Linked DNA regions of Homo sapiens. The protein of the gene in region 4 binds, or shares a complex with, the protein of the main gene of each other region. Each region holds a gene or a part of one and is shown on either strand. Other genes may lie near its edges.

Region 1 (7,649 bases), on a different chromosome or scaffold from region 4:
TAAGTATGTACTGGAAAAGACAAAAACGTGTATAGTTACTTAAAAGCTAAAAAGAAAGGGAATGGCTTAACAGTATACTTTATTATTGCTCACTGTAGAAGTTGTACAGTGTATACTCAATATTTTTTAAACAGTGAGTAATTCTTTTTTTTTAAGGGTATTTATAAACTATATCAACCAAAATATTAAGTAGTTGCCATATCCAGTCTTGCTGCCTTTTGTCATTTAAACCATTAAAATAGTCTGTGCCTTAAATCTCAATTTTTCAGTGTCTGGTGACAAGGAAGAGGATGCTCCTCATAGAGAAGATTACTTTGAGCCCATTTCTCCTGATCGGAATTCTGTTCCCCAGGAAGGGCAATATTCTGATGAAGGAGAAGTAGAAGAGGAACAACAAGAAGAAGGAGAAGAAGATGAAGATGATGTGGATGTAGAGGAAGAAGAGGATGAGGATGAGGATGATCGACGAACAGTAGACAGTATTCCTGAGGAGGAAGAGGAAGATGAAGAGGAAGAAGGTGAAGAGGATGAAGAAGGTGAAGGTGGGTTATGTTAGCTAGGACTTTGGGGTTTAAGTACTAGAAACTAACTCGATACAGCTTTGAAAAATGCAAAAGAATTTCTAGCAAAGATAAATGGGTTCCAAGAAACCCAGGGTCAGAATGTAGCTAGGCCTCAAGGCATGACTAGAAATGAGATTTCCATCTCTCCTCTGCTTTGTGTGTTTACTTTAATCTCCCCTGTTTAACCAGCCAGCCTAAACTGCCTGACTGTATCTCAGTTTTCTGTTTGACTTGCTACAGTATGAGTTTCCCTTTGACAGCATCAGCTTTTGCCAGGAAAACAGGGTCATGTAACAAATACATGTTGGTTAGGGATTTGGTGGCTGTTTTCAGAGTAAGGAGTGGTAAAGCTAGGTGGAATTCCTAAAGATGTCTGCCACCTAGATATTTTAGCAAATGCTACATTATTTTTAAAAATTCAAGGGAAAAATCTCAATTACACAAGTACATGTGGCAGTATGATACAGTCCTTTAATTAGGCTTTATTTTTCCTTTGAAAGCAAAAAGTGAGAGATACTCAAGCTAATTGGCTCTTAATTTGCCCAAGAAATGGCATTTAATGTTAAAGCATTTATGCAGAATAACAGATAATCTGCCTTGGCTTTTTTCTACAGATAGTAAAAATGAATGTCATTTCAGAATCATAGGGGCTCTTTTAAAAAATATCAAATAGCTAGATTATCATGTGATTTTTTTTTAACTTTCCCCATTCACAGATTATCAAATAATTATTTCTAGATTTATTGTATTTGGCAAAAGTAGTTAAATGTTAGGCAGGCAGTTTTCTTTTTTTCTTTCTTTTTTTTTTTTTTTTTTTGAGACAAAGTCTCATTCCATGACCCAGACTGGAGCGCAGTGGTGCGATCTTGTTTCACTGCAACCTTCACCTCCAGGGTTCAAGTGATTTGTCCCTCAGCCATCTGAGTAGCTGGGCTTACAGGCACGCACCCCTACGCTCAGGTAATTTTTGTATTTTTAGTAGAGATCAGGGTTTCACCATGTTGGCCAGGCTGGTCTCGGACTCCTGACCTCAAGTGATCTGCCCGGCTTGGCCTCCCAAAGTGCTGGGATTACAGGCATGAGCCACTGTGCACAGCCATATTTTAAATGGACACATTTTCTATCAAAATATAATGGAGACCTACAAAACTGTGTGATAGGTAAATGCAGAGAAATAAAAATTCTGGAATGTGAAATTGTTATAAAACGAATCTACAATGGTTTTGCTGAAAGTATTTGGTTTAACCTGATGATATTAGTTCTTACTTAACTTAAAACAACCAGTTTTTTTTGGTCTTAAAAATAATCTCTCAAGAGGACAAGCATAATTTCTTTCCTCCTGAGATAGATATTTTTGTTACTTTGAGGCATTTCTAATTATATTTCTGTGAGGAAAAGATATCTGTTACAGTTAGTTGTAAAACTGAACAGATACAGAGGAATTTGCTTAAAATGTTTGTCCAGTTTTCAGGTCTCACCCCTTTCAGGAAAAAAAGAAGTTTGTCCATAATTCTATTAGAAATTATAAAATGTTGTAAAATTGTGGGTAAGATGTTGGGGCAGAAGTTGGTTTTGTTGAGGAAATCATTTTTAATGTTTTATTAAAACTATTTCTTGTTCAATCAGAATTTATGTATTAGACAAAGATGATGTAATACTTAAATATTATTCATACTAATTTTCAGGGGATGATGGTTATGAACAAATTTCCAGTGATGAAGATGGAATTGCTGACTTGGAACGTGAAACATTTAAGTATCCAAACTTTGATGTTGAATACACTGCTGAAGACTTAGCTTCAGTTCCTCCTATGACATATGATCCATATGACAGGGAGCTTGTACCACTCTTATACTTCAGTTGTCCATACAAGACTACTTTTGAAATTGAAATCAGTAGAATGAAGGATCAAGGTCCAGATAAAGAAAATTCAGGGGCAATCGAAGCCTCAGTGAAGTTAACAGAACTCTTAGATTTGTATAGAGAAGATAGAGGTGCAAAATGGGTAACAGCTTTAGAAGAAATTCCAAGTTTAATAATAAAAGGGTTAAGCTATTTGCAATTGAAAAACACAAAACAAGACTCCCTTGGCCAGTTGGTAGACTGGACCATGCAAGCTTTAAATTTACAAGTAGCGCTTCGCCAACCTATCGCCTTAAATGTTCGACAGCTCAAAGCTGGGACCAAATTAGTGTCCTCACTAGCAGAATGTGGGGCTCAAGGAGTTACAGGACTGCTACAAGCAGGAGTGATCAGTGGATTATTTGAACTTCTGTTTGCTGATCACGTATCATCTTCTCTTAAGTTAAATGCTTTTAAAGCTTTGGACAGTGTCATTAGTATGACAGAAGGAATGGAAGCTTTTTTAAGAGGTAGGCAGAATGAAAAAAGTGGTTATCAAAAGCTTCTGGAACTCATACTTTTAGATCAGACTGTGAGGGTTGTTACTGCTGGTTCAGCTATTCTCCAAAAATGCCATTTCTATGAAGTCTTGTCAGAGATTAAAAGACTTGGTGACCATTTAGCAGAGAAGACTTCATCTCTTCCTAACCACAGTGAACCTGATCACGACACAGATGCTGGACTTGAGAGAACAAACCCAGAATATGAAAATGAGGTGGAAGCTTCTATGGATATGGATCTTTTGGAATCCTCAAATATAAGTGAAGGGGAAATAGAAAGGCTTATTAACCTCCTAGAAGAAGTTTTTCATTTAATGGAAACTGCCCCTCATACAATGATCCAACAACCTGTTAAGTCTTTCCCAACGATGGCACGAATTACTGGACCTCCAGAGAGGGATGATCCATACCCTGTTCTCTTTAGGTAAGACATGTTTGCCTTTTGGGAAATAAATTTCACAAATCATTGGAGACAATTTTATGTGGTTGATTTTGCTTTTTATCTGATTGTAGGTAACTTATTTATGTGTAAGGATACTTGATATTTCAAAACGGTTATTTAGTAGTGGAACTGAGAAGTATGTTACTGTGGGTGAGCTTATATTGTGTTAGTTCTTAAAGCAAAAATGGGAACTTCAGTGAAAGATTTTAGTAATTAACAATGATGCTTGTATAAGCATGTCTATGAGCAAGAATAAATGAGAAACTGCTGACTTGCTTCTGGGAAGGTGGTAACAAAGGAATGGTGTAGGAAGGAGAGCTCTTCTGTGTGAACCCATCTGTACTTACTACTCTTAATACATTGTAAGTTAAAATTATATTTTACTAGCTTAATTTTACAGTGCTGGTTAAAGATGTCTTTAAGTTTCCATTACTACTTGTTTCTGCCATCTACCTCTCTCATCTGTTGATACAGTTTTGCCATTGTTAGGACCAGCATCCCTAGTAGATTTTTTATTTTGTTTTGAGACTTTCTTTCTTACCATTTGCCTGTAAATAATTTCCTAACATAAAAATGGAAAAATGGCATTTGAATTATTTTATTACTTATTTTTGTGATTAATATTTTCATTGATTTGGATGGAGCATAGTGCATTCCCAGGGGATGGGATATGTGTCCAGTCTAAAACCTCCACTTATCCAAGTTCCTGTTTTTAGCTGAAACTGTTACACCTTGTCTTAGTTTTGAGTTTCCTAAAAGGATAACTTGAGTCAAAGTCTTGGGTGCAGGTTCTTTGAAAGATTATCCTAGGAAGCAGAAATGCCTGAAGAGAGTAAGATAAGGAGAAAAACCAGTAAAGGAAGTGTTATTATACTTATTGCTGTGGACAGCTGGGGCTCATCCTACTGGGGATCCTCCGAAGAACTGGTTAAAGTGTATCTCCTGCTTATCCTCCTAAAACATTCAGGCTGGGCATTCGTCTACCAACTCTCCCCTTTGGTTCAAGGATGCCCACAAGAAACTTTTAACTCTTTTATGCTTCTGAGCTGTTCCTGCTTGTGGTCCGAGCACCCTTTAATCCCTTTGGGGGGAACCCTGAGAAAGAAAGGTAGAGAGGCCCAAAGTGAACACTTGAGGCCAGATACTGGCAACCCTCACAGATTGTGTACTGGGAAATCAATGGGTCAGTGATGGGAGGTTGGGGAGCAGTAATATGTAAGAGATGGGCAGAGAATGCATTTAGGCAGGATACTTAGAAGGAATAGAAAGACAAAATGAGAAGCAGGAGAGAATAGAAACTAAGGAAGCAAATAGTTTTAGGAACCAGTGAATGGTTTGTTGTGATACTGTGCAGAGGTTCAGAAGATAAGGATAGGAAATCATGTATTTTGTAACATAGATTGCAAATGGGGCTCTGGCAAAAGTAGTTTAATGTAGCAGTGGGAGAGGAAGTGTAGATGAAAAACCACTGGCCAGTAAGGATTTGAAATGGTGTAGGCCACTGTTTTAAGAAATGTGGGTGGATCACCTAAGGTCAGGAGTTTGAGACCAGCCTGGCCAACATGGCAAAACCCCATCTCTACTAAAAATAAAAAACTAGAGCCGGGTGTGGTGGCTCACGCCTGTAATCCCAGCACTTTGGGAGGCTGAGGTAGGCAGATCATCTGAGTTCAGGAGTTCGAGACCAGCCTGACCAACATGACGAAACCCTGTCTCTACTAAAAATACAAAAATTAGTCGGGTGTGGTGGTGGGCGCCTGTAATCCCAGCTACTTGGGAGGCTGAGGCAGGAGAATCATTTGAACCTGGAGGTTAGAGCATGCGGTGAGCCAAGATCTGGCCACTGCACTCCAGCCTGGGCTACAGAGTGAGACTCTGTCTCCAAACAAACAAACAAACAAACACCGGCCAGGCATGGTGGCTCACGCCTATAATCCCAGCACTTTGGGACGCCAAGGCAGGTGGTTCACCTGAGGTCGAGAGTTCAAGACCAGCCTGACCAGCATGGAGAAACCCCATCTCTACTAAAAATACAAAATTAGTGGGGCATGGTGGCGCATGGGTGTAATCTCAGCTACTTGGGAGGCTGAGGCAGGAGAATTGCTTGAACCCGGGAGGCAGAGGTTGCAGTGAGCTGAGATCTCACCATTGCACTCCAGCCTAAGCAACAAGAGCGAAACTCCGTCTCAAAAAAATAAATAAACAAGTAACAAAAACACACACACACACAGACACACACAAAAACTAGCCGGGCTTTGGTGGAATGTGCCCGTAAACCCAGCTACTTGGGAGGCTGAGGCAGGAGAATCCTTTGAACCCGGGAGGTTGGAGGTTCTGGTGAGCCGAGATCGGGCCACTGCACTCCAGCCTGGGCAACAGAGTGAGATGCTATCTCAAAAAAAGAAAAACTAGCCAGGTGTGGTGGTGCATGCCTGTAATCCCAGCTAACTCGGGAGGCTGAGGCAGGAGAATCGCTTGAACCCAGGAGGCAGTGGTTGCAGTGAGCCGAGATCGTGCCACTGCACTCCTGCCTGGGCGACAAGAGCGAAACTCCGTCTCAAAAAAGAAATTTGGCCAGCCTGGGCAACATAGGGAGACCGCTACAGAAAATAAAAAATCAAAAAAAAAATAGCTGGGAATGGTAGTGTGCGCCTGTAGTCCCAGCTGCTCAGGAGGCTGAGGTGGGAGGATTGCTTGAGCCTGAGAGGTTAAGGGTGCAGTGAGCTGTGATTGTGCCACTGCACTCCAGTCTGGGCAGCAGAGTGAGACTGTGTCTCAAAACAAGAAATTTGGCTAAGAGAAAAAGTAAGAGACAAGGCAGCAGCTAGAAGGAGATGTTGGAGTCAAAAAGGAAGGTTTTTATTTTTTAGGAGTGGGAGAGGCTTGAGCATATTTGTAGGCTGGGAATAATGACTCATTTATAATAAAAAGTCAGTGGAGAGGGAGATGTTTATGATGTAGGAGTAAACAATAACAATTCCTGGGGCAAGGCTTGGTGGGAGATGAGGACAAGAGTACAAGTGTAGGAGTTTGGTTTTGGGCAGGAGAAAGGGAATCTTGTAAGTATGCAAATATAATACATTTGTAGTCTTGGAGATTGTAAAGAAATTTAAATACTTCTTACTAACAACTTTATTTTTAGTAGAATAGGTGATGTTTTCAGTCACTGAGAAGAAGCTAGTAATTAAATACTTACTGAGTGTTTTTTTCCCACCATATGGAGGAGGTATATTTGGGTATCAGACAAGAGGAAATAAAGGGCCCAGAATGGTTGTGCTAAGGAATTTGGATTTTATTTGTAGAATATGGAAAGGTATTGAATATTTTGGAGTAGCAGATCTGATATGATCAGAGTAATATTCTCAGATTTTGTGTTGCAAGATGTATTGCAATGGAAAAGAAATTAGAGTTACTAGGAAGATAAGATAGTCTGAGGTTTCTAGGTACTGGGTTTTAAGTACTTTGCCCTTAACAGGTAATGGAAAGGCAAATATTGTGCTTATAGTGACAGAGATTGTGAAATAGCCATTATATTATATAATAGTACTAGGACTTGGCAACAGGACCTAGTAGGCGAAGGGAAGTGAGAAGAAGCTAGAGATTTCTAGCCAGGGTAGCAATTGGAGCTGTGGTTTTATTGACAGAAACTGGTAAATTAGGAAGGAGAGTGAATTTTGAAAGGAAAAATAATTGTACTTTGGAGGGTTTGTTTTTGAAGTGGTGGCAAGGCTCTATTGTCCTATGTCAGGTTCCCCAAGAGCACCAAGATTCTCTAGGAGGACTCACAAAACTCAGCATATAATACTCAGCAAAGGAAAAAGGTACCTGGGAGGAAGTTGGGAAAACCAGTTGCAAGCTTCCAGAGTCCTCTCACAGTGGAGTCACATAGTGCCTGCCTAATTCTCACAGCAACAGGTTGTGACATGTGTGAAGTGTTGCCTGTTGAGGAAGCTCTTTAGAAACTCGGCACCCAGGCTTTTTTATTTTTTATTTTTAAATAGCAACAGTGACATGTTTTGATACATGTATACATTGTGGAATAATTATATCAAGCTAATTGGCATGCAAATTTTTTTATTGTGGGTAGTCATGTAGGCACTCACTGCCTATCTTATACCAGAATTCCAGACTCCTAGAAGGAAAGCAGGTGTTCAGCATAACCATATTGTTTGCACAAATAATTTAGGCACAAGGAACCATTCTTATCAGTTAGGGGTGCGGGAATCCTCTTGAAATCTAAGT
Region 2 (7,649 bases), on a different chromosome or scaffold from region 4:
ATTATATCATTTCAACAGATAAACATCTTAGGTGAAAAGGATGATACACCAGTTCATTTCTGTGACAAGTGTGGATTGCCTATTAAAATCTATGGGAGAATGGTAAGTATAATTAAATATTGTTTTTGTAAGTAAGCATTTGCATAGAGGTGGGGTTCTGAAATTTAGATAGGTTTATCATTGTTTAATGACTAAGTTTGCAAAATTTTAAATAAGTATGAAATAACTAAGGGAAGTATTGGAATACTATGAATTTAATATGATTATCTTGACAAATTGTTGAATTCTTATAAAATATTAAATAAAACTGAAAATTAGAATAATTTCTGAAAACTAATTCCTTTGGAGTGTTTGATACCAGTGAATTTACAGTTATTCTAGTTTATTAAGGAAATTTTTGTTTCTTAATAAATAGAACAAAACTGCTTATTTTTGAAGGCCACAATTTTTTACATAAAACTGCATTAATAATATTTATAATTTCTCTTTTTTTCCTGAGGCTCAGAGAGGCTTAATAGTAATTATTATTTCTGAAAATTGAATTATAATCATTAAAAAAATTTTACAATCCTAACTGTAATTTTATAGTAATTTTCACATTTCTTCCCTCCAAAAAAGATAGTTTTGCATTTGCCTTTAGAAAAAAAAAATTGAATTCAATAACATACCTGTGATGGTAGATGGCATGGATTATGCAGTGTTGCTTTGCTGAACATCATAGTAAAGAAATAGTAACAGGCTGTGAATTTAAAAATGTGCTTCTAACATCATTTAATGTATCCTTCTGATTGATTTTTAGATTTTTATTAGTTAATTAACTTGAAACTACCAGAGGAAGATGCTGCTTACGTTAAATATAGGACATACTTGTTATTTTACTGCATTGGAATAGTTTCAGGAGAAACAAGATTAAAAAAAAAACACACATAATTAAAAGTATTCTTCAGGAGTTTTTGACCTGCAGGGGGCTGGGTGTGGTGGCTCACACCTATAATCCCAGGGCTTTGGGAGGCTGAGGTGGGAGGATTGCCAGAGGCCAGGAGTTTGGGACCAGCCTGGACAATTTAGTGAGACCCTGTCTGTACAATAAAATAAAATAATTAGCCTGCTGTGGTGGCACACACCTGTGTTCCTCGCTATTCTGGAGGCTGAGGTGGGAACATCAGCCAGGAGTTTGAGGTTACAGTGAGCTGTGATCACACCACTGGACTCCAGCCTGGGCAACAGAGCAAGATCTGTTTCTTAAAAAAAAGGAAAAAAACGTGTGGGGACCATGGGTGAAATTTATAGGGTTTACACCTCCAGAAAGTATAAGCAAATGCATGTGTGTACATTTATTGGGAAAAGAGCCATAGTTTTTGTCATGTTCTCAAAAGGCTTTGTGATTGAAAAAGGTTATTATAATTAGTACTTAATAAATGTTCATTTTAACAGGTATTCTCAAGTGTCTTCTAAGCCTTATGTATAGGTTACTATATATATATATTTTAAAAATATTATAAGTTCTAATATGCTTAACTGTAATATGTCTTTGTTTACAGATTCCATGCAAGCATGTTTTTTGCTATGACTGTGCTATTTTACATGAAAAAAAGGGAGATAAGATGTGTCCAGGGTAAGATAAGATTATCATTACCTTTTTTAAATAATAAAGTTTTAGTGCAATGATTTATAAGTTGGATTAAAGGTTAGGGAGTGATGTAAATCAGGCAGGAGATGAAACATACAGACATGGCTAATCTTTTTCTGTGAGCCCAGCTTGTGTTAGGTTTCTCTTTAATATAGGGCAAGGTAGCCACTATCAGTCAACTCAAATTGGTCAAAATGAAATCTGTTTGCCATTATAGAAGTATTATTATAAACAAAAAAGTTACTTTTTTTAATGGGACATTAAAGAAGTATTAAGATATATTGAGAGCAAAGACTCCAGAATTAGAATTCCTGGGTTCGAATCCTTGTTCTGCTATTTATTAGCTGTTTTACTGTCATAGGCTATTCTTTATTGATAAAATGAGACTGATAATAGTACCTACCTCCTTGAGGTATTTTTAGGATTAAATGAGGTTTTATATATATATAACATATGTACACAGATACATATATATAGTAGCTGGCATATAGTAAGCACTGTATATATAAGCTCTTGTTACTTTCAAATCTGATTATTGTATTTGGAGTATGTCTTAGAACACCATCATTACATAGTCTCAAACAAGTTATAAAAAGCTAGGTCCATTTTGGGATGGTCTTGAAGAAAACAGAATAAGAATTTTTATATCAGTTCAGAATCGTTGATAAGGAAGGCTTAAGAAAGAATGAAAGATACTTGCTTGGAGTAGCCATAGGCTTCTTAGATCACTTATAACCTGTGCTTAAAGCTATACCAAGATTTGTGGTATTGATTGATAACAAAGCTGTGGACACTTGTCAGCAATGATTCCCTTTTATGGTGTAGGAAAATTTGACGTCACCAGGAGAGAAAGGGGTGATTTATTAACAGCTCAGTGACAACTAATTCTCTTGGCATGTTTTTATTAGCATTTTAAAGTAACAGATTATAACATTTGTTCTATGAATTTAAAAAATATTTTGTTTATAGAATTATAATTCAGAAGAATTAAGACATTAGAAATACATATCACTTGTTTTTTGGGTGTTTTCTCTCAGGCCTAATTTTTCAGCATGGTATACATTCATTTTAAGTTACATAGTAAATTTAATTGCTTCATCGGGATAAAGGATTTCAGATGTGATAAAACATTATTTAGAGGACTTTTAAAGGTTTCCTCTTTTGTATAAGTATTAAAAGGAAATTAAAAGGTACTTATTGTTTAAAGAAATTACTTCCCAAGGTACTAAATGTAACTAATGTACTGAATATTCTAATGTACTAACCTTACTAATGGACTTAAATGTAACAAAGTACTAAATGTCACACCTCACTTATGTGGTCCTTAGTAGCAATTTTAGGACAGAAGCCTATCTGGATTAACAGACCCAGATCAGGAAGTGAAGAAATGGCAGTCAGAGTTAAACAGTATATATTACTGTTCTTAAGCACCACCCAAGAGAAAGTGCTTCACATCTTGTTAAGGTGGAGATAGTTCGGAGTTTACAGTGAACTAGAAGCAAAAAGTGTGCCAGATGGCCACTAAAGGGAAGCATAATAACATCAATAAGGAGTGCCAGCCTTATAGTAAGGATGGAAAGATAGACACAACTCAAAATCAAGAGTATAGAGCCATTTAGTATAGTGTCAAATGACCTGACACACATATTCAATGATAATTGCTTATATATGTACACACACATATATTTATATATAGTGCTTAATTGGGGATTAAATACTGTCACTTTCATTGTTTCATTTGATATTAATATTCTTTTAGGTAATATGAAATAGATATAAAAACATTGTGAAGTAGGTAGATACTTTAACCTCATTGTATAAATGAAGAAACAAACTCAAAAATGGTTCAATGACTTCAAATTACTGAGCCAATACCAGATCCCAAGATCTTCAGATTCCTATTTCAGTCCTCTTTCCCCACTGTGTCAAGAAAGCTGTAATGGCAATTATGGATTAAATATGGTAAATGAAAAATAGTTATAATTTTGACCCTGAGTTTTTAAGAAAATGTTAAGTTAAATTTAGTGCTCACAAATTAGAAAGTTAGCAAAGTGTAAATTTGTCTGACAGTTCAGAAAAAACCCTTCTTTAAAGGACTTTTAGTAGTCAAGGCTTGGATTGAAATTGTTTGTTTAATGTTAAGAACCCTAATGATGAGGCTGATGTTACTTGTTGTAGTCCTTGCAATGTCTTCTACTTACTGTTTTCCACTTAGTATTATTTGCTCAACAAACAGTTATCACTCAATAATACCATACTAGTTTGAATTCCATGATTGTAAGTAATCTACCCGTTGGTTTTTTTCTTGCTGGGTTTTTTGGCAAATGGATGCAGAAGGTACAATTGTTTGAGAAAACTGGATAAATTCTAGGCCTTGGGAAGAATGAGGTCTCTTCTTGAAACATACCGTTTGATATTAGGAGTTCTGAAGTTGACAGAAATGCCTATCTTAATGGCTAACAGACAACAAAGTAGGGAAGATTAAAGGTTTGCGTAGAATAACTGTAACTTCTAATTGTGGACTTTTGCTATGTTTTATGTAACAGTCAAATTTTAAAAACAAGCATATTTTTGAAAATTACATAATTTTTTGTATTCTCTTTTAGTAAATCACATTTCTTTCCCTTCTAATTTAGCTGTAGTGATCCTGTGCAGCGAATTGAGCAGTGTACACGAGGTTCTCTCTTCATGTGTAGCATTGTTCAAGGGTGCAAGAGAACATATTTGTCTCAGAGAGACTTACAGGCTCATATCAACCATCGCCATATGAGAGCTGGAAAACCTGTTACCCGTGCTTCACTTGAAAATGTTCATCCTCCTATTGCCCCACCACCAACTGAAATCCCTGAGCGTTTTATAATGCCACCAGACAAGCACCATATGAGCCATATTCCGCCAAAGCAGCACATCATGATGCCACCACCTCCTTTGCAACATGTGCCACATGAGCACTATAATCAGCCACATGAGGATATTCGTGCTCCTCCAGCAGAATTGTCCATGGCTCCACCTCCACCTCGATCGGTCAGTCAGGAAACCTTTCGTATTTCAACAAGAAAACACAGCAATTTAATAACCGTCCCTATTCAGGATGACTCAAATTCAGGTGCTAGAGAACCACCACCTCCTGCCCCAGCACCTGCTCACCATCATCCTGAATATCAGGGTCAACCAGTGGTATCGCACCCTCATCATATTATGCCTCCACAGCAACATTATGCACCACCCCCACCTCCTCCACCACCAATAAGCCATCCAATGCCACATCCTCCCCAGGCTGCAGGTACTCCTCACTTGGTATATAGCCAAGCTCCACCTCCACCAATGACCTCTGCTCCACCACCAATAACCCCTCCCCCTGGACATATTATTGCCCAGATGCCACCTTATATGAATCATCCTCCTCCAGGACCTCCCCCACCTCAACATGGTGGTCCACCTGTAACTGCACCCCCTCCTCACCATTATAATCCTAACTCATTACCCCAGTTCACTGAAGATCAAGGAACTCTGAGCCCTCCATTTACACAACCAGGGGGAATGAGTCCTGGTATATGGCCTGCACCAAGAGGGCCACCACCACCTCCACGATTGCAGGGTCCGCCTTCTCAAACCCCACTTCCTGGACCACATCATCCAGATCAGACAAGATATAGACCGTATTACCAATGATAATAGTATTTTGAATGGAAGATATGAGGGGGAAAAAAACTTATGTGTAGTCAATCTTTTAAGCTTTGACTGTTTTGGGAAGGAAGAGTACCTCTTATCGAGGTAGTATAAAACACATAGGGTCTTGTTTCTTAAAATGGTTTTAAATCTTGACCTTAAGATTGATTTCAAGTACCATACTGTAGTACAGATAAGTGGCTCAGTTGAGCACAGCTATATTTTAACATCTCTTTGTTCCCCTAGTTTAGTAAATTGACCCAGAGGTGACCATTTGTAAAAAATTTGAAAAAATTTTTCATTGTTTTACTTCAAAAGTATTGTTTTGTTAAACCCAACGTTTAGTTTTTCTTGTGATACATTTTGTTAACCTGTGTAAAAGGATTAAATTTCAATATGGTTGTAAAAATGCTATTTTTATGTGAATTTAAGTGCAGCCACATACTGTTTTTTAAACCATATGTTTTACCACTAATTTCCCAAAGTTATAATAAAATCCTGAAAGTAAAAATCTACTAGAATTTGCTGTAAGGCAGACTGTTAAATGATAGAGAATTATTTCACATTTTAGGCACTGAAATGTTGAGGTTTCGAGGTATAGTAAGTATACAATGCACTTCACTTGGATGCCTTTTCATTTTTAGGCAGCCTCAGGAGCACCAAAATACATTGGAATTCTAGTACTAAGATATATTTGTTCGTAATGTTAAAAGACATTACTAATTATTTGGAAAGAGATGGCCAAAATAATCAACTCTACAGGCTTCAAGCTGGTGGGGGAATGCTGTTACTCATTAATGCTTTTTTACTGAATGGTCGGAATCACATATGCACCACACATACTGATCTTAAGTAACATTATTTTATAGAACTGTTTAAATGGGTTTAAATGGTGTTCTTTAGATGAAATGTGTTCTGTTTTGTTCATTGTCTTAAACTGAATAGGGCTGAATAGGCTTTATGTAATTCTTCATTTCATGGTAGAGTTTGATGCTGTGTTTAAGTGGGTTCTTGTTTATAGGATTTTCAACTACAGTTTGAATGCCATGGAGGAATTTGAATAATATATTAATGAAGGACATATTCTTGTAATCACAAATTTGCATTTGCTCAGGTTTCATTGCTGTGTGATAGGATTTTTCCTCTAACTTGAAATTTAAAAACTTTTATTTCCTATTCCTTTTGTCGGTAAAGCAGTCTGAATTTGGAACATTTTATCATGGAGTCAACAGTGAAGACTACCAGATAATTTTGTATTGGAGAAGAGGAAATAACAGCTAAATTGTGGATTTCAGTGCTTTACATGGTGCCTTTCGAGTCAGCTTTTACATTATAGGGGCTTGTTATAGTTTAGCTAAGATGACCACTTAACAGTTTATACAGAACTCATATGTATAAATCAACATTCTTAGGATATTATTTATATCCTTTGAATAAATCCCTGTGAAGTTTTTCCTCCCCACTAAAATGGTGCATAATAAAACATGAAATATGTAGTATGCAGATATCATTTATTAGATAGTTTGTAGTGTATACATTTAGAACATACTTCTTTTGACAAAGGGTGATCTGATTGCTAATTTACCATTTTATTCTGTCAGGTACAGGTGAAACAAATTCTCATCTTGAATGATCAGATGCAAAATCATTTCTGAACCCTAGAGCAGAAGTTAGAAATAACAAAATGGCCGTTTCAACCTTGACTGGCCAAAAATAACTAATAAACTTTTTTGTTTTAAGTCAGGCAAGTGATTTTCTACATTTAGCAGTTTGAAAGTCCAGTGTTAATGCAATATTTCTAGTGAGAAATGCTTGTTATTAAAAGCATGGGAGTGATAGTGTGAAATGGTGGTGAGTGCTTCTATCATATTACTGTAGGTACTTGGACTGGTGCAAACTTGATTCCTTTTCATCCCCCTGTTTAGGAGCTATTAAAATATTACTGTTAAAAATCCAAACCATTCTTTGTTCCATGTAATAAGAAAATAGCCAAAATCACTTTAGAGCTTCTCAACTATTTATGAAGAGCTATCCTGCTTTTATTGAAAGTCACTAGAGTTGAATGTGGTAAGAAACCACTTAGCCTATGTATTGGACGAGAAAATCAGTATCATGATAAAATTTTGAATTAAGAGAACCCTTGTAGAGTTTTTAAAAAATGATTTATTTTCAATTAGGTTTAAGAAATCTATGTTATGCAGGGAGGCATATCAGATGAATGTTGTAGCAGACAAAAGTTTTAAATCGTGTTAGACTTGAATTCATCAATTGTTTGAATGAGGGTGGGTGGGTAGAAGGATAACAAAATTACTGTTAGTGTTTCTTTCCTTACGGAAAAAGATGTGAATCC
Region 3 (8,253 bases), on a different chromosome or scaffold from region 4:
GAAAAATAGTTTCCCTCTTCTCATTCTCTCTTCTCTGTACTAGAGAGTAGACTTTTATTTATTCAGTATTTGCAATCAATTGTATTCATTTTCTTTTTGACGCTAAAATTGCCCTAAATTTGCCCCCTGGGAGATCCTTCAAGCTGGCTCCCATGTCTCTAAAATTTATTTTTGAGAGACTGAAAATACAAATGGTAAATGGCCAGAATATACATAAAAACAGAATTCTGACCCATTACCTACAACAACTAGCCCAGTAAACCAACCACTTATTTACCATAAGTGTACTCTCAGCCTGAAAGCCAAACCTGCTATCAACCAGACTTGTAGGAAGTCAGACTGCTATCTCTGGTAGCAATCCAGGAAGCTAAATAATAACTTCTATGACAATCAGCTCAAAATGGCCAGGACTTGATTAAAACTTGACAGCTTCCCTACTTTTTGTCCTCACTTCTAGCTTATGCCCATCCAGAGAAAGCCAAATATGCTCCTTTAACCAAGACCATAGGATGCCAACTTGTAGTTAGCTTCCAGCTTCCCCATGCCAACAGCTTCCAATCAGGCATACCTGTGAAACCTTTCCTTTTGTCCACTGTAAAGCTTTCCCACTCCTCTGCATGCCTTTGAACCTCTGCTAAAACATAAGGGATGGTGGCTGACTCCCTTGCTACAGCAAGTTCTCAATCGACTTTGCTTTTCTCATTTGGTTTGCAATAAAATGCATTCTTTACAGTGACACAATTTGATGAATTTTGACAAACGTATACATTCCCACTAACCATGACACAGAACATTTCCATCACCCCCAAAAGTTCTCCCATTTTCCTTTCCAGTCAATTCCTTCTCTCTTCCCCTCCTAACCAACCACTGATCTGCTATCTACCACTATGGATTAGTGTTGTTTGTTCTCCTAACTACAGTTGGCATAGCCTCATTGGTCTAAGCACTTCCTCTGCATTCAGGCACAACGAAATACCTGGCTCATCTTGTACCTTTCCCGTCCCAGAGCTGGAATCAGCCAGTTCTCCAAAGGAGCTCTGGATCTTTTTAGTGGGAAATGGAATTTAGAAACCAAGATCTCAGTGTCAGATGTGCTCACTGTTACTGTAGGGTGCCCATGCCTATACATCCTGGTTCAGCCAGGACTGTTCCAGTTTTAATCTGAAAGTCCAGCATCCAGAGAAAACCCCTCTGTTTGTGGCAAACTAGAACAACTGGTCACCCTAGTGCTTCTAGGCCCTTTCAGTCCACAGAACTAGGACTTTTTTTTGCAGTTGAAACTTTTTTTTCTTTTTGATAGGGTCTGTTGCCCAAGCTGTAGTGCACTGGTGAGATCACAGCTCATTGTAACTTTAAACTCCTGGGCTCATTTGGGCCTCTCGCCTCAGCCTCCCAAGTAGCTAGGACTATAGGCACAGGCCACCACCCCTGGCTATTTTATTATTTTGTATTTTGTAGAGACAAGATCTCACTGTGTTGCCCAGGCTGGTCTTGAACTCCTAAGCCACTTTGGCTTCCCAAAGCACTGGGATTACAGGTGTGTGCCACTGCACCCAGCCCTCCAGTTTAAACTCAATACTACAGACTTTTTTTTTCTGAACTTCTTAAAATTCTTTATATTAGTTTCCACCCCCACCCCCGGATGAATGAACGTCTTAAAAATTGTTTTAAATTTTTTAAAAAATGGAGACAGGGTCTTGCTATGTTGCCCAGGCTGGTCTCAAACTCCTGGACTCTAGTGATCCTCCCGCTTTGGCCTATCAAAGTGCTGGGATTACAGGCATCAGCCACCCGGCCCTTTTCTGAACTTCTTTGATCTTGTGTTTGTATCTCATTCTCTCACACACTGCACATCTTTGTATATAGTAACATTAAAATACTTATGTTATCCTACCATATACAGTACAGAGTTTTAAAACCACAGTAACAATGTTACCATTAATCATAAATCAGTGAAGCTGAAAGCTCCTGTGCACTTTTTTCATCCTTAGAATACACAGTTGACCCTTGAACAACACTGGTTTGGACTGCCAGGGTCCACCTATATGTGGATTTTTTTCACCCCAACACAGATGAAAAATACAGTGGGGCGAGGGACGGTGGCTCACACCTATAATCCCAGCATTTTGGGAGGCTAGGTGGGAGGATCACTTGAGCCCAGGAGTTCAAGACCAGCCTAGGCAACACAGCTCTCTACTGAAAATAGAAAAAAATTAGCTAGATGTGCTGGCACATGCCTGTGGTCCCAGCTACTCGGGAGGCTGAGATGGGAGGATTGCTTGAGCCCAGGAAGTCAAGGCTGTAGTGAGCCATGATCGTACCACTGCACTCCAGCCTGGACGACAGAGTCAGACCCTGTTCTCAAAAAAGAAAAAAAAAAAGAAAAGCAAGAGAAGGGAAGGAAGGGAGGGGGGAAGAGAGGGAGGGAGGGAAGAAGGGAGGGAAGAAGAGAGGGAGAGAAAGAAAAAAAGAAAAGAAAAAGAAAGGAAAGGGAAGGAAGGAAGAAAACAAAACAGAAGTACAGTGGGATGCAAAACACACCTACACAAAGAACCAACTTTCCCTATGCTCAGCTCCGGGACTTTAGTATGCAGATTTCTGTATATGCTCGCAGAAGGTCCTAAATCCAATCTCCTGCATATAAGGAAAGACTACACTATCACAACACAGATACACTACTAGAGTACTGTGTTCAAAAGCTCAGAGGGGCCAGTGGTGGTGGTTCATTCCTGTAATCCCAGCACTTTGGGAGGCCAACCTGCAGGCGGATCACCTGAGGTCAGGAGTTCCAGACCAGCCTGGCCAACATGGTGAAATCCCATCTCTATTAAAAATACAAAAATCAGCAGGGGATGGTGGCGCATGCCTGTAATCCCAGCTATTCAGGAGGCTGAGCTGAGAGAATCGCTTGAACCCAGGAGACAGAGGTTGCAGTGAGCTGAGATTGCACCACTGCACTCCAGCCTGGGCAACACAGTGAGACTGTCTCAAAAAAAAAAAAAAAAACCCAAAGAATAATTATTTTTTCTGTGTATCTTAGTTATATTAGTTAACAGTTAAGTTCATTTGTTTCAATTTGCTTTCAACCTTAGGATTTACTTTGTTTCCTTTTTTATTTACTTTTTTGGCTATGTAAAACTAAAAGTTCAAAGACAGAGAAATCTTGTCTCCACCCCCCACTCTTTATAGGCAACTAAAAATGTTAAGTTTCCAGGATATCCTTCCAATTCCTCCCCGAAAATAAGCATATACACATAAATATTCATATTAAATATAAATATATATTTTTATGTATTTAAGTAAATACATAAAAGCATATATGCTTATTTTTGCTTTTGAATACAGTGAATACTTACTACACTTAAATATTTAAGTGAATACTTAATACAACCTGAGACTCATTCCAAAGCAACACACGATTATTTCCTGAATCTTTTTAATGGTTGCATTGTGTTCTACTGTATGGATGCACCATTCCCAATCAGTTCCCTATTAACGGATATTTGGGTTATCCCTAACTTTTGCTATGACAAATAGCACTGCAATAACCTTGTATACCTATTGTTTCCATGTGTGGAGCTGCACCTTCAGAATAAGGTTAGGGTTAGAAGTATAACTGCAAGGTATAAGAATAAACACAAGTAATTTTGTACTCCGTGGAACTTGAACCATTTTTCCACTCCCACCAGGAAAGGTAATTTCAACGTGTATTTCCATTGTAAGTGAGGTGGAGCGACTTTCTATGTTTAAAGACCATTACGGTATTTTTTCTGAGAATCATCTGTTCATGTCCTTCCCCATTTTCTCCTTTGGCTTTTGCACTTTTTGTTTTCAATTTTTGAGAGCTCTTGTGATACGAGTTGCAAAGATTTTCTCCAGACCGATCTGATTCACTGGAAATATACTACGACCATCTGGAATGTACTTTAATCTTATCCTAATAAATCACCTTACTACAAGACACTCCTTTGGGGATGAACAGGTTTGATAAAGCCGGCTAAGGACAGACCAATCAAAAGAATTACGTGCTCTTCTAGTAAGTGTTTAGAGACTGTTTCACGTTCTCCAGGTAACACCGCCATTACTCGGCGGTCCAGATGGCAGTCTTACTTCAGGGAGTCTACTCCACTTGCAGGACCTCTTTGATTGAGTTCACTAAACCTCACAGGGCCGCCTTCCCCGTGTTCCAGTTAGCAAGGGGCCCTCAACGCCGCGGACACAGCGCAACCTCCGACGCCAGAGAACAATAGCTCCTCGATGCGTCTCCAGAGATGTCAAGGAGGAACGAACCCAGCGGCCAGGAGACTGCGCCTCACGACTGATGAGAGGGAAGGCATCGGTTTCTAAGTTCTCAAAACTTACAGGTGAGCTTCTGCTAAGAGTAAACGCCCGCGGCTCGCCGCCCACGGCCTCTCTCTTGAGGTGGCACCTGGTCCTCCGACACGCGGAAGCATCACGGATGAGCGTCACGAACACAGAGCGGCCAATCACGCGCCGCCTTCGCCCAGATCCCTCCGCACGAGGCAGCCCCGCAGCCGCAGGTGGCCCCGGCGAGTACTTCCACCTTCCCTTCCCGTGATGCCCTGGGGCTGACCTCCGACCTCGCTGGCCCGCCCCTCCCCTCGGCCGCTTCCCTTACTGAGCTTGCTGAGCTCCGGGGCCCGCGGAGCTCGCGCCAGGCTCCTGGGAAAGGACGGGGAGTGTTACCGGGGAGCAGCTGCTCCATTGTGCCTCGAGGCCCCGATCGGGCTAGGCCGACGGCCTCCCTCCCTTCACCTTTCCTCTCCTGGCGGGGTTCGGCGGCGGGCGAGTGACTGCGGCCACGCCTGAAAGGCGACTCTCCTGTGAGTGGGCCAGAAGGCGAACATGGCGGAGCGGGGAGGCTGGCGGGAGGCGGGAGGCGGGAGGCGGGAGGCAGTGGCGCTGGCCTGCGGCGCGTTCGGACCGGCTGTGGGGCGGGGCAGGGCGGAGCGGAGCCGTGCGGCGGGGCGGGGCCGGGCGGCGGGGCCTGGTTTCCTCCCTCAGCGCCATTTTGTGGCAGCGAGACCCACAAATAAAGGGGAGCGCAGGGGTTGCGGCGGGACTAGGAGCGCGGCGGGGCCGGCGGCAGAGCTGTCCGGCTGCGCGGTGGCCCGGGGGGCCCGGGCGGCAGGGCAAGCAGCGCGGCCTCGGCCTATGCGACCGGTGGCGCCGGCGCGGCTTCTGCCTGGAGAGGTAGGCGCGGGCCGGCTGGCGGGAGCGGACGCGGGGGACCTCCGGGGCCTGAGGGCTGATGCGCAGCCGCCCCCGGCGGGTAAGGGGCGGGCAGGGCCCGAAAGGCCACACGGGCCTGGTGCGGCACCGGTCTCTCGTGAGCCGCTCTACCTTCCCGCCTGCGGGGAACACTTCCGCCGCTTCGAGGCCATTTTATCTCTGTCCTCCGTCCCCAAGGCCCGGGTTGAGAGGGGTGCTCTGGCGGCCGGAGAGACCGGCCACTCACGGAGGCCGGAGGATGCCCTCCCCGGGCTGAGCGGCGGCGCTCGTTTTTTCCTCGCCTCGGGGTCGCCCCCTTCACCTCCCTTGGGCCTCTCCTGAGGACCTGGCGGCACTAACGAGTTCAGCAAGGAAAAAAAGAAACATTCGTTCCCTACATTTCATGTCACGCAGTAGGATGTTACTACGTTCTCTTGTAGACTTCCATTTTTAAATGAGTATAAGCATTCTGAGGAAAGAAACTGAATTATTGCAGATTTTTGTGAAATCCAAGTCTTACCTTGGATCCCTGTGAGACAGTTACTAGATTTTTTTTTCACCGTTTTTCATAAGTCTGTGTACACGTAATGGAAAAGCCCGAGTTCTTGTTTTGATAAGAAAGTCACTTGGTTGTTTGATCCCAAAGGATTAGCTTAACATTATCAAGGACTAGCATAACTGTGATTATGTAAAAAAAACAAAACAAAACAAAAAAACTATTATTTAGTCTGGTAGGGAAATACTTCTATGAGTATGTTACAATTGGAAGTTGTATTTGTGCCTATTTTATCTAGTTTTAGTTAATTCCATTGCTTCGGAAGATAAGTGGACGTCATAGATCCATCGCAAGTTCTCGTTTTTTGGATTTTAAAATTTTGACCATTAAGTTTTCTACGATAGATAAACATGTTGTGGACATTTAAAACCGTAATTTAAAACTATGAGCGAAAAATCTTTTCAAGATGGATACATTTTAATTCATTCAAGTAGCATCTGATTAGCCAAGTCGGGGAAAGATTGCAGTCCGCAAAGCTGGCTTGTGATAAGGTTGAGGTTACATTTTAAGGGTTTGGGTAGGTGTGTTTCTTACAGTGCTTTTATATGTTAAGGTATCTTAAGCAGACACATGGTTTAAAAGTTCAGTATTTTTAGTACTTTTTCATTGGCAGAATTTGGACAAGCTACCAGAATTGCTAACTCCTAAAGGATAAAAGTAATAATAATAGTGTGTCCCAGGCACTGCTTATTTTTACATGGCTCTTTTATGTCTAGCTTTTCCAATTCAACGTTGAGTCATGTTTGCTGAAAATATTTTTGTGTATTGTTTGTCAGAAATAAGCTGGTAGAGATGAAACACAATGTGTAAAAAGCCCTGTGATGTGGAGATGAGCATTGTCACAATTTGTACAGTACATTAAAGCGTTCAAGGTCTCTTATGGTCTTGTATGTAGTATTGAATCCCCTTGAATATATTGTTTAGCAGTTTTGATCATTATGTATTTGCTTCTTGCTCCTCAAAATTGTACGTTAGTTAGTAGGTCCTTCAGCAAAAGAAGACTGAAGATAGTATTTTGGTTTTATTCTTGTTTTTAATTTTTTTAGTTGTCTCCAACTTTTCTGCCTCTAAATATTTTGCTTCTTGTAGTTACTAAGCTTAACACAGAAAAACTTTTCAGTATCTCCACAATAGTAAACTTCATTGTGTATTGTGTATAACAAGATGTTCCATCTGACTAAAATATATTGCTGTAAATATTTTCTGCCTTTGAAGATGTAGTTAATAGAATTTAATCTTTTCTAAGTGCACATTGAAGTTGCCTTTTATGTTCATATTATGTTCATATTTTATTTGAAAAATCTATAGCATTTTTATTGTGCTGAAAGCATTAATATTTGCAGCACTTTGTGAGACAGGCAAAATTATCTTTTTGCTGACTTGGAAACTGCAAGAGTTAAAAGACTTGCTTGGAATCACACATGGCAGATAGAGGATAAGGAAAAGATGGCCTTTCAGTTCCTCATCAGTACCTTGCTACTACAGTGTCTGCAGATTGGTGTCTTACATTCAGCTATGATTTGTTCGCCAAGGTACCGTGTCTTCTTACTGAAGTTGTTTTGGCTGGCGCTTGCCTCCGTTCAGAGGGAACTGAGTTACCTAACTTTATGATGCTAAGAGCCAGGAAGGTACTGGGATCTGGGATGCTAGGCACCTAACCAGTCTAGACTGAACTCCATACTAAGCTGTTTTTCTGTGTTAAGGCATCAAGAGTAGATGGTGGTCCTGATTTTCTGAGATATATTATCTCTGAATTATCTACATAAATAACTGAAACTTTTATGTAATTTTAAAACTAGTCAATCATGTTACCACCCTTTTGAGGGGCACCAAATTTGAGACCCTTACCCCCAATTTATTAATTAATAGCTGTTTTAATCACCTAATAGCTGATCACCTAATGACTAACAGTCATTTTCATCCTGGAAAATGGGAACTAACTTTGACTTTGAAAAGTGCTGTTATTAAATGTGTGATTCATAAGAACTGAACATATTTTCTTTATTATTTTCCTTCAGGATTCAACTTTAATTGACTCCAAATGATGTTATGGTCATTCTGTTTTTCTGATACGAGAATAGATTGTTCTGAGAACCTAGAATATTCATTGCCTTTATGAATCTAGAATTGACTTTAAATTTAGGTTATTGTGTTTGTCATTTGCGCTAAAAAAAAAATTGCCCTGGGGAATACCAAACTTCTCGGTACATTCGTGTGGTGTGAAAGTCAAAATTGCCAATTAGGTTCTATTTTGACCAAATAGTTGAATGTTGTAGACAGTTGTAAATTTTGAACCTGTTCTAATTTGCCTTTTGCCAGATGGCGCATTTAACTTTGTGGCATATCATCGACTTTCAAGGAAAGATTTACTTTTCATCAGATTAAAGTTGAGGAAGGATTTTCTTTCTAAATACTGAGGCTCTGAATTTCCCAAGTTGGATACCCCAGACAGCTAGAGTGATCTT
Region 4 (7,188 bases):
ATTCAGTGGAAACTGCTTTGTTTTCTTTATCCCCAAAGATAATGTTCTTTTATTTGAGACAGAGAAAAAGTCTTTGTTAGAAAAACAGTCCTCTTACACAGCAAGAAAGCATCAGCAGAAGGGAAAAGAGCTGACAAGGGAAGGTTATGAAAAATCTCCTGGGAGTTATTTCCAATTATTAAGCAAGCAGCAAGGGAAAGGGACTATTTATTGAGCACTTATTATATGCCATACATTAGAAGCTGAGAAAGCATACCACTGCCCTTATAAAGCTAACAACAAAAACTAAGTCATAAGAGCCCAAGCAGTGGTGTAAAAGCTCAGGACTAGGTGAGTAGACAAATGCAGGTATCAGATGAAAAGGCAAGCTTTCTGTTTGAATCAGGGTAAAGGAAAGCAATCAGAACTGGGAAAGGTCCCCAAAGAGGTGCTGGTGCCATCCTGATCCACTATCTTGTCAGCACCATCTGAGGAAGGATATGGAGTTAAGATTCAAGGAGGTAGTTGGCTGATGGGCTTACATTTGTGTTTACATTTTTCTAAATTTTGCTTTGGAATTATTTTTATAAATATATTTTTAATCATGCATTATCCTTTAATTGAGCTCAATAGTAGAAAAGAAAGCTATAATCTTGAGTTTTTATTTACCATGCTATAAACCTAGCTTCTTAGACAAAACAATAACCCAACTACCCATGTAGCTTTCATGAATTATGAGCAATATTATTACATTAAAAATCTTTTTATTATTAAGGTACCCACCACAATACATAAACTATAAAGTGACAGCTAATTCCACAAGACATTTAAGCAATTACTTTGATCATTTAACCAGCATAAACTACTAAACTGGATATATCAGAACAAAATTGTGCTTTGAGGTTTTGTCCACTTTCAAAAACAACAAAATAAACACCCAGAAAAGGCAGGATAATGATGTAGCCATTCTCTTATGATAACAACAGTTATAAAAATCTGTACAGGTAAGGATTATCTAAAAGGTGTATTTTGTGACAACACAAGCCTAGACCTCCACATTTTCCCCCATTGGATAGATGAATGGCTTGCAATGACATCATTATACGGCAATTTTAAAGTATTAGTTCACATTTTCAGTCTACTGTGTGTTCCAAAGTAAGCCAACTACTTAATATGCTTTCAAAGGTGATAGTTTCCTGTCTCAAGCAAGTAACCTTTTTTCCTCTTTTTTAAGTAAATGTGGTCACACAGTATACAGCTACAATGCATGCATAATTTAAATATGCATGTTGGCCAGTTGCAGAGGCTCACGCCTGTAATCCTGACACTTTGGGAGGCCAGGGTGGGTGGATCAGTTGAGGTCGGGAGTTTGAGACCAGCCTGGCCAACATGGTGAAATCCTGTCTCTACTAAGAATACTAAAATTAGCTGGGTGTGGTGGTGGGCACCTGTAATTCCAGCTACTCAGGAGGCTGAGGCAGAAGAATCGCTTCAACCCTGGAGGCGGAGGTTGCAGTGAGCCAAGATCTTATCACTGCCCCCCAGCCTGGGTAACAGAGACTCTGTCTCAAAAAATAAAAATAAAAAAGAAAATATGCATGTGGTATTTTGTTAGCCAAGTTAAATTTTTTTTAGTTCTATGAATGCAAATGTAAGCAAAAGTCACAAACTATTTTGTCAACCTCTAAAATGTAGGGAAATGCACATGAACATCTCAGACTTACCCTCTTCTCTCTGTGGTGACAATTAGCTGGAGCTGACAAGTGATGTCCACTTTACCCAGGGTATGAGGTCTCCAGCCCCACTCTTCTCTCTATAGTTGCTATGGCCTGAGACCAAGAGTCAGTGGCCATTTACTAACGCACTCTATGCTGCTCTGCTCTGCTTTTCTTAGAAAGGAGTTGAGAGAACTCATCAAAGTGAGAAAAAGCACAGATAGATGGATGAAAGTAAATGAGTGAAAATATTTCCATGTCGTTAATATGCAAACAATGTGCCTAAAGAAGACAATTATCCCATTAAAAAGTTCTTGGCCTGCTTCTCTATTAATATAGAGTCCCATATGCATTTTACATTGTTGACTTCTAGGTTGTCAATTATTTAGAAGTATTTTTGGAAAAACCTACCTTATCTGATTTCAGTTTATTAGCACCTTTAGTTACAGAAACATGAACTCTAACATACACTCAAACTGATCATTTTAATATTTTATCCAGTAGTGGAAAAAGGGTTTACTGGAAAAGGATGTCCCAATTATCTAGATTGAATGAGGTAGTTTTTCTCTGTGCATTACAGCTAGCAATATTTATACGAGTAAATGATAGAGTTATTGAGAGCAGAAGCAATGTGGTATTTCCAGAAATGAAGTCTTCAATGGAGTCAGTTTACTGGATAAATGTTCTAATCTTTTGAGAAGTCCTAGATTTATGGCCTCAAAACTAACTATATATACACAAGAAAAGTTCAGCCTCTATTACCCAACATCAAAGAGAGGATAATGCTAGTCACACATGAACCCTAAGATTACAGGATTGTTCTAAGAAAGACCTTCTGCATAAGCAAAGGTTTATGTTTCTAATAGATCACAAAATATGAGACACTTTCAGATCAAAGACTACTGTTTAGACTAAGTCCCAACAGGGCTTTCATTTTGTCATGTTAATAAGGATTATATTAAACAAATTAGTAAAGTCTGAAACTATACTTCAAAGGCTAAATCTTATGTTCTAAATTCAGGATGAAAACAGTACAGGTTTTAAATTAAGCGCTGTAACTAACTGAAAGATAATTTAGCAATTAAGATGGGTAGAAAGTATTTTAAAAGACATGAAAAGGAGTAACTCCTAGTAGCAGCTGTGACACCCTGATGCACAATATAGCTCCCAAGTATCCCATCTTTATACTCCATTAACTTAAATGAAACTATAGCATATCACTGACCTGGCCTCAGAATAAGGGAGATAGGAAATAAGGGCTCATAAAGTGGCTCTACTACTTACCAGAGTAACAGAGCAGAACTGCTGCAGTAGTGATCCCTCTCAACTCTGGATCTGTGAGTTGGTTGCCATGCCACACTCCTGCTTGATTCTCACTTCCCAGGTTGACACCTTGACCTCTCACACTGTGCTGTTTCATGATGACCGTATTACATTCTGACTGCCATCATCACAATTCTGTGGTCTAATCTGATTCATTTGTGTTTAGGTATGGTATTCCACACCATAAAATCTGTTCTCCTGACATCATCAACTACCTGCCCTCTTCTTTCTCCACAGTGAAGAAGAGTAAAAAAGTATTCCTACTCAATCAGTACTTTGGGCCTCCTAATCCCCATCCTCTGAAAGGAGGAAGGTCAGTGGGAAAATGGTTCTCACTGGAAATAAATAACAACAGTTGGTTTGGAATACCATGAATTATAATTCTGTAAAAACTCAGACATGCTGATCTTCTAACTTCTAAACTAGGTTATTTCACAATAATTAGCTTCTATCCCCAGTAAGGAATTAGTGCATAAAGCAACTAAAAATTTATTTCTATACAATTTTTTTTTTTTTTTTTGAGACAGAGTCTCACTCTGTCGCCCAGGCTGGAGTGCAGTGGCACAATCTCGGCTCACTGCAACCTCCGCCTCCTGGGTTCAGGCAATTCTCCTGCCACAGCCTCCCGAGTAGCGGGGATTACAGGCGTGCACATGCCACCACGCCCAGCTAATTTTGTATTTTTAGTAGAGATGGGATTTCTCCATATTGGTCAGGCTGGTCTCAAACTCCTGACCTCAAGTGATCCACCCACATCGGCCTCACAAAGTGCTGGGATTACAGGCATGAGCCACCATGCCCAGCATTTCTAAATAATTTTGTGGAATGTAAGACATGTAAATATAAAGAAGACCAAAAATTAGAAGAGGTCAGAGTAATGAAATTTCATTGGAAACCTTTCCTCAATGAATACACAGTCATTGCAAAAACAACACCTCAACCTTTACTGAAAGTGAAAGTTAGCAAAAACTAGTGAATCAATTCCATCCTGCTATTAAAAAGGCCAGATTCATTGTCAAAGGGATAAATTCTGGGTCTTACATTCTTTTTCCACCATCTGCTCTTTTTTAAATAACTTTTTCCTAAATATGGTAGATCATGGCTCCCCTTAACTTTCAACCGACAAAGCAGCCATACCTACCTCTTTCTAAGATGAAATTGTGACACTGATCTCACAGGTGCCTATGCCATGTAAACAGCAGGAATGTCACCTTGGGTAGGCCCAGGGTATGGAACGTAATAGAGAGCCCTGTGTATAGGACAGGGTCACTCCTTAGCTGATACTTCTAAGGACCCATCACAGGCAAGTGGAATTTCTCTATCCTGACTTCATTCCCAGGTCAATGCTGACATATAGAGTTCTAAATCTAGATAATTTGTAATTAGTGAAGTTGAAAATATACCATAATTTCAGCAAAAAAAAAGGGGTCTTGTACTAGATAGTACTAATGGGTTAAGCGAGTTAAATTAATTAGGCTTTTAAGGATCTCAGCCTTATTTCTTCTATCACTCATTCCTTATCTTCAAACTGAGTCTTTGGTGGATGTAATATAATCTCATCTTAGGTATATATGAGCACAGAACGGCCATTAAAATCCATCACAGACCAAAAGAAGAGACTGATTTTAGGTCAGTCCTTTTTCATTTTGTAACAACAGTAATTCTACTTATAGAAAACAGACTCTCAAATCTCAAAAGTTTAAAGTTTCATTAGAAAAATCATAAAAATAAGAAAAGTATTCATCAAGAATGATAATAGTATAATTTCATTATCAAATTCATTTAAAACATGAATTACAGTACAGCAAGAGAAGTGACAGCATAAAGTCTTATATAATTTTAAAAACAAACATCACACCATATGGTTTTAATAAAAGGCAATTGCAGTTCCAATTTCCAAGCTGTATCCTTAAGTTGAGGGTTTTCCGTAGTTGGTTTTACATTAAACTATCTCCATAACAAGTTTAAAGGTGTATGTCATTTCATCACCAAGTATTTTAGTCCCAAAATGTATAAACCAAGCATCTGATAATGAGGTATCTTGTCGCTGCCTCTCTTTTATTTGAGGAATATAAAATTTAAGGTCAATCCAAGTTCAAGTCCACACCACAGTGCTATCTAGCACATGAATATTTGTCCTCCTTTGCTTCTTAGGAAGCGTGATTAGGAGTCATAGCCACAAAATTGAGATTATGATGATAAACTTTTTTTTTTTTTTTAAGTCTGCCTGCTAAGTTCTATCTCTTCTTTCACCCACCCCTGGAATCTCCACCTCCCCTATCAAATTTAGATTTGGGAAGAGTTTTTGTTCAAAGTCTCTTAATTTCTTCAGTATTCAAATTATATCTGAGTTTATTTAAAACTTAAAAAAAAAGAAGAAAAAAGCTTACCTCTTTTTATTGTTTCATCAAGAAAATGTTAAAACCCTGACAAAAGCTTACCATCTTTTCCAACTCTATTCTATCAAGGCCCTGTCAGCACTAGCATGATACCACAGACTGGATCTTTTTCCATTATTTATTCCCAAAAATTAGCAAAATCCTTTGTAATTAGCTGAAGTCTATCAGAATAAATTCAGTCTCTGAAGATGAAGCTACTTGAGTTGTTCCATTCTGTTCACGCACATAACAAAAGGCAGAATCATTCATTTATCCTGAAAAAAACCAGACAGTGTGTGTGACAACTGCAAGCAAGGCTCGCTAAGACATTCTTGCAGCTCAGAGAAATTAAAGCAAAGTGCAAGCTGGAAGTGAGTTCTAAAGTTAAGTCTCCCACTTGAAATTTAATTACAATAAAGAAGGTTAGAGGAGGATGAATAGGTTCAATGTCTTCAACAATTATCGAGGTGGAAAGCCACCTCTGTGTGCTCCTCCACGGCCCCCTCTAAAGCCACCTCTTTCTCCTCGGAAGTTAGATCTATTTCTTTCTCGTCCACGGCCAGCAGAAGTTCCACCTCTTCCTCCACCTCTGGGAGCTCCACCTCCTCGGTCAGATTTAGATTTGGGAGGAGGCGATTTTGGTCGAAGTCTCTCAATTTCTTCTGTACAACCAGTCAAGTAGGAATTAGGAGCACTGAAATAGGATGCATATGTTTCTGCATTGTAGTTGCTATTTGTAAGCGTTGGTCCAACTGTGAGCCAGCCTGAAATGGAGGAAAAAAAGATTATACTTTTTATTTGCAATTCTCTCTTATTAATTCTTTAGAAGCTAGTTCAAATCCCCAATGCATTCTTAAAGATGTCCCCATCATTCATCCAATACTGATCTCTTTTACAGAATGGCACTTAATTGTGGTCATGTTTTAAAGATTTCACAGGTATATATCTTGTTTCTCCTCCTAGATTGTAACTTTTGTAATATATCCTCCTCATCCACGTACTATCTTTTGTGAGAATAGAACTTAGAGAAAAAAAATCCCATACATTACACTGAGTTTGGGTTTAGTGAAACTGTAATAAATTATATATAATCTTCCTATTTATGTAAATGGTGCCATTTTCTGATTAAAATCTTGGAACCAACTTTTGCTCTACACTTGCTAACTAGAAAATATTCTCAGTTGATAGGTCTGAGAAATTCAACCACTACCATGTTACTCCCACTCATTCCTATCTTTCCATTTCTGCTGCCACCCTCAAATTTAAGCCTTTATTTTTTTTTACAAGGTCAATACCCTACCATATAACACATGTGTAACAGACACACATATATACTGTAATGATCTCCCAACCTATAGCTTCTCCTCCCTCTAAAAGTGGAAAGCCTAAAGCAAAGCTTAAAACATGTCACTTCTCTGCTCAAAAACCTTCCAACTGTTTCCACAAAGCCCAAATTCATAAATATAAAATCTAAGATCTTTTACAATGATGGCTGAATGAACTTTCCAATAACATTTCTCATTAATGCTTTTCATGAACCTCTAAGGAAAACAATGAACTACTATAGTAACTGCTTCTATACTAACCCCGATTTTTGTGCCCATATTATTTTCTTTTCTATCCTGTCAACCTGTTAAAAATCCCACCCTTCAACATCCAATTCAAATATATTTCTTACATGAAATGAAAATTATTTCTTCTTTCTCAGAATTTCCACTGCACATTATACTTCTGTAGGTAAACAGCTATTTTGCCAATTATATTGCTAGACAACTTTTCTTGTAATAAGGATA

What was found.
Region 1: METTL14 (region 4) and VIRMA share a complex: the UniProt entries of both Homo sapiens proteins name them as parts of the WMM complex.
Region 2: METTL14 (region 4) and CBLL1 share a complex: the UniProt entries of both Homo sapiens proteins name them as parts of the WMM complex.
Region 3: METTL14 (region 4) and WTAP share a complex: the UniProt entries of both Homo sapiens proteins name them as parts of the WMM complex.

The regions. Positions count from the first base shown.
Region 1 is NC_000008.11:94,521,963-94,529,611, reverse strand, and holds part of VIRMA (protein virilizer homolog), read left to right. Parts: intron 1-269; coding exon 270-542; intron 543-2,248; coding exon 2,249-3,389; intron 3,390-7,649. UniProt on the Homo sapiens protein: Associated component of the WMM complex, a complex that mediates N6-methyladenosine (m6A) methylation of RNAs, a modification that plays a role in the efficiency of mRNA splicing and RNA processing.
Region 2 is NC_000007.14:107,753,877-107,761,525, forward strand, and holds part of CBLL1 (E3 ubiquitin-protein ligase Hakai), read left to right. Parts: intron 1-18; coding exon 19-102; intron 103-1,541; coding exon 1,542-1,615; intron 1,616-4,266; coding exon 4,267-5,302; 3' UTR 5,303-7,649. UniProt on the Homo sapiens protein: E3 ubiquitin-protein ligase that mediates ubiquitination of several tyrosine-phosphorylated Src substrates, including CDH1, CTTN and DOK1. Targets CDH1 for endocytosis and degradation.
Region 3 is NC_000006.12:159,722,490-159,730,742, forward strand, and holds the start of WTAP (pre-mRNA-splicing regulator WTAP), read left to right. Parts: upstream 1-5,016; 5' UTR 5,017-5,214; intron 5,215-8,253. UniProt on the Homo sapiens protein: Associated component of the WMM complex, a complex that mediates N6-methyladenosine (m6A) methylation of RNAs, a modification that plays a role in the efficiency of mRNA splicing and RNA processing.
Region 4 is NC_000004.12:118,708,969-118,716,156, reverse strand, and holds the end of METTL14 (N(6)-adenosine-methyltransferase non-catalytic subunit METTL14), read right to left. Parts: intron 6,160-7,188; coding exon 5,855-6,159; 3' UTR 727-5,854; downstream 1-726. UniProt on the Homo sapiens protein: The METTL3-METTL14 heterodimer forms a N6-methyltransferase complex that methylates adenosine residues at the N(6) position of some mRNAs and regulates the circadian clock, differentiation of embryonic stem cells and cortical neurogenesis.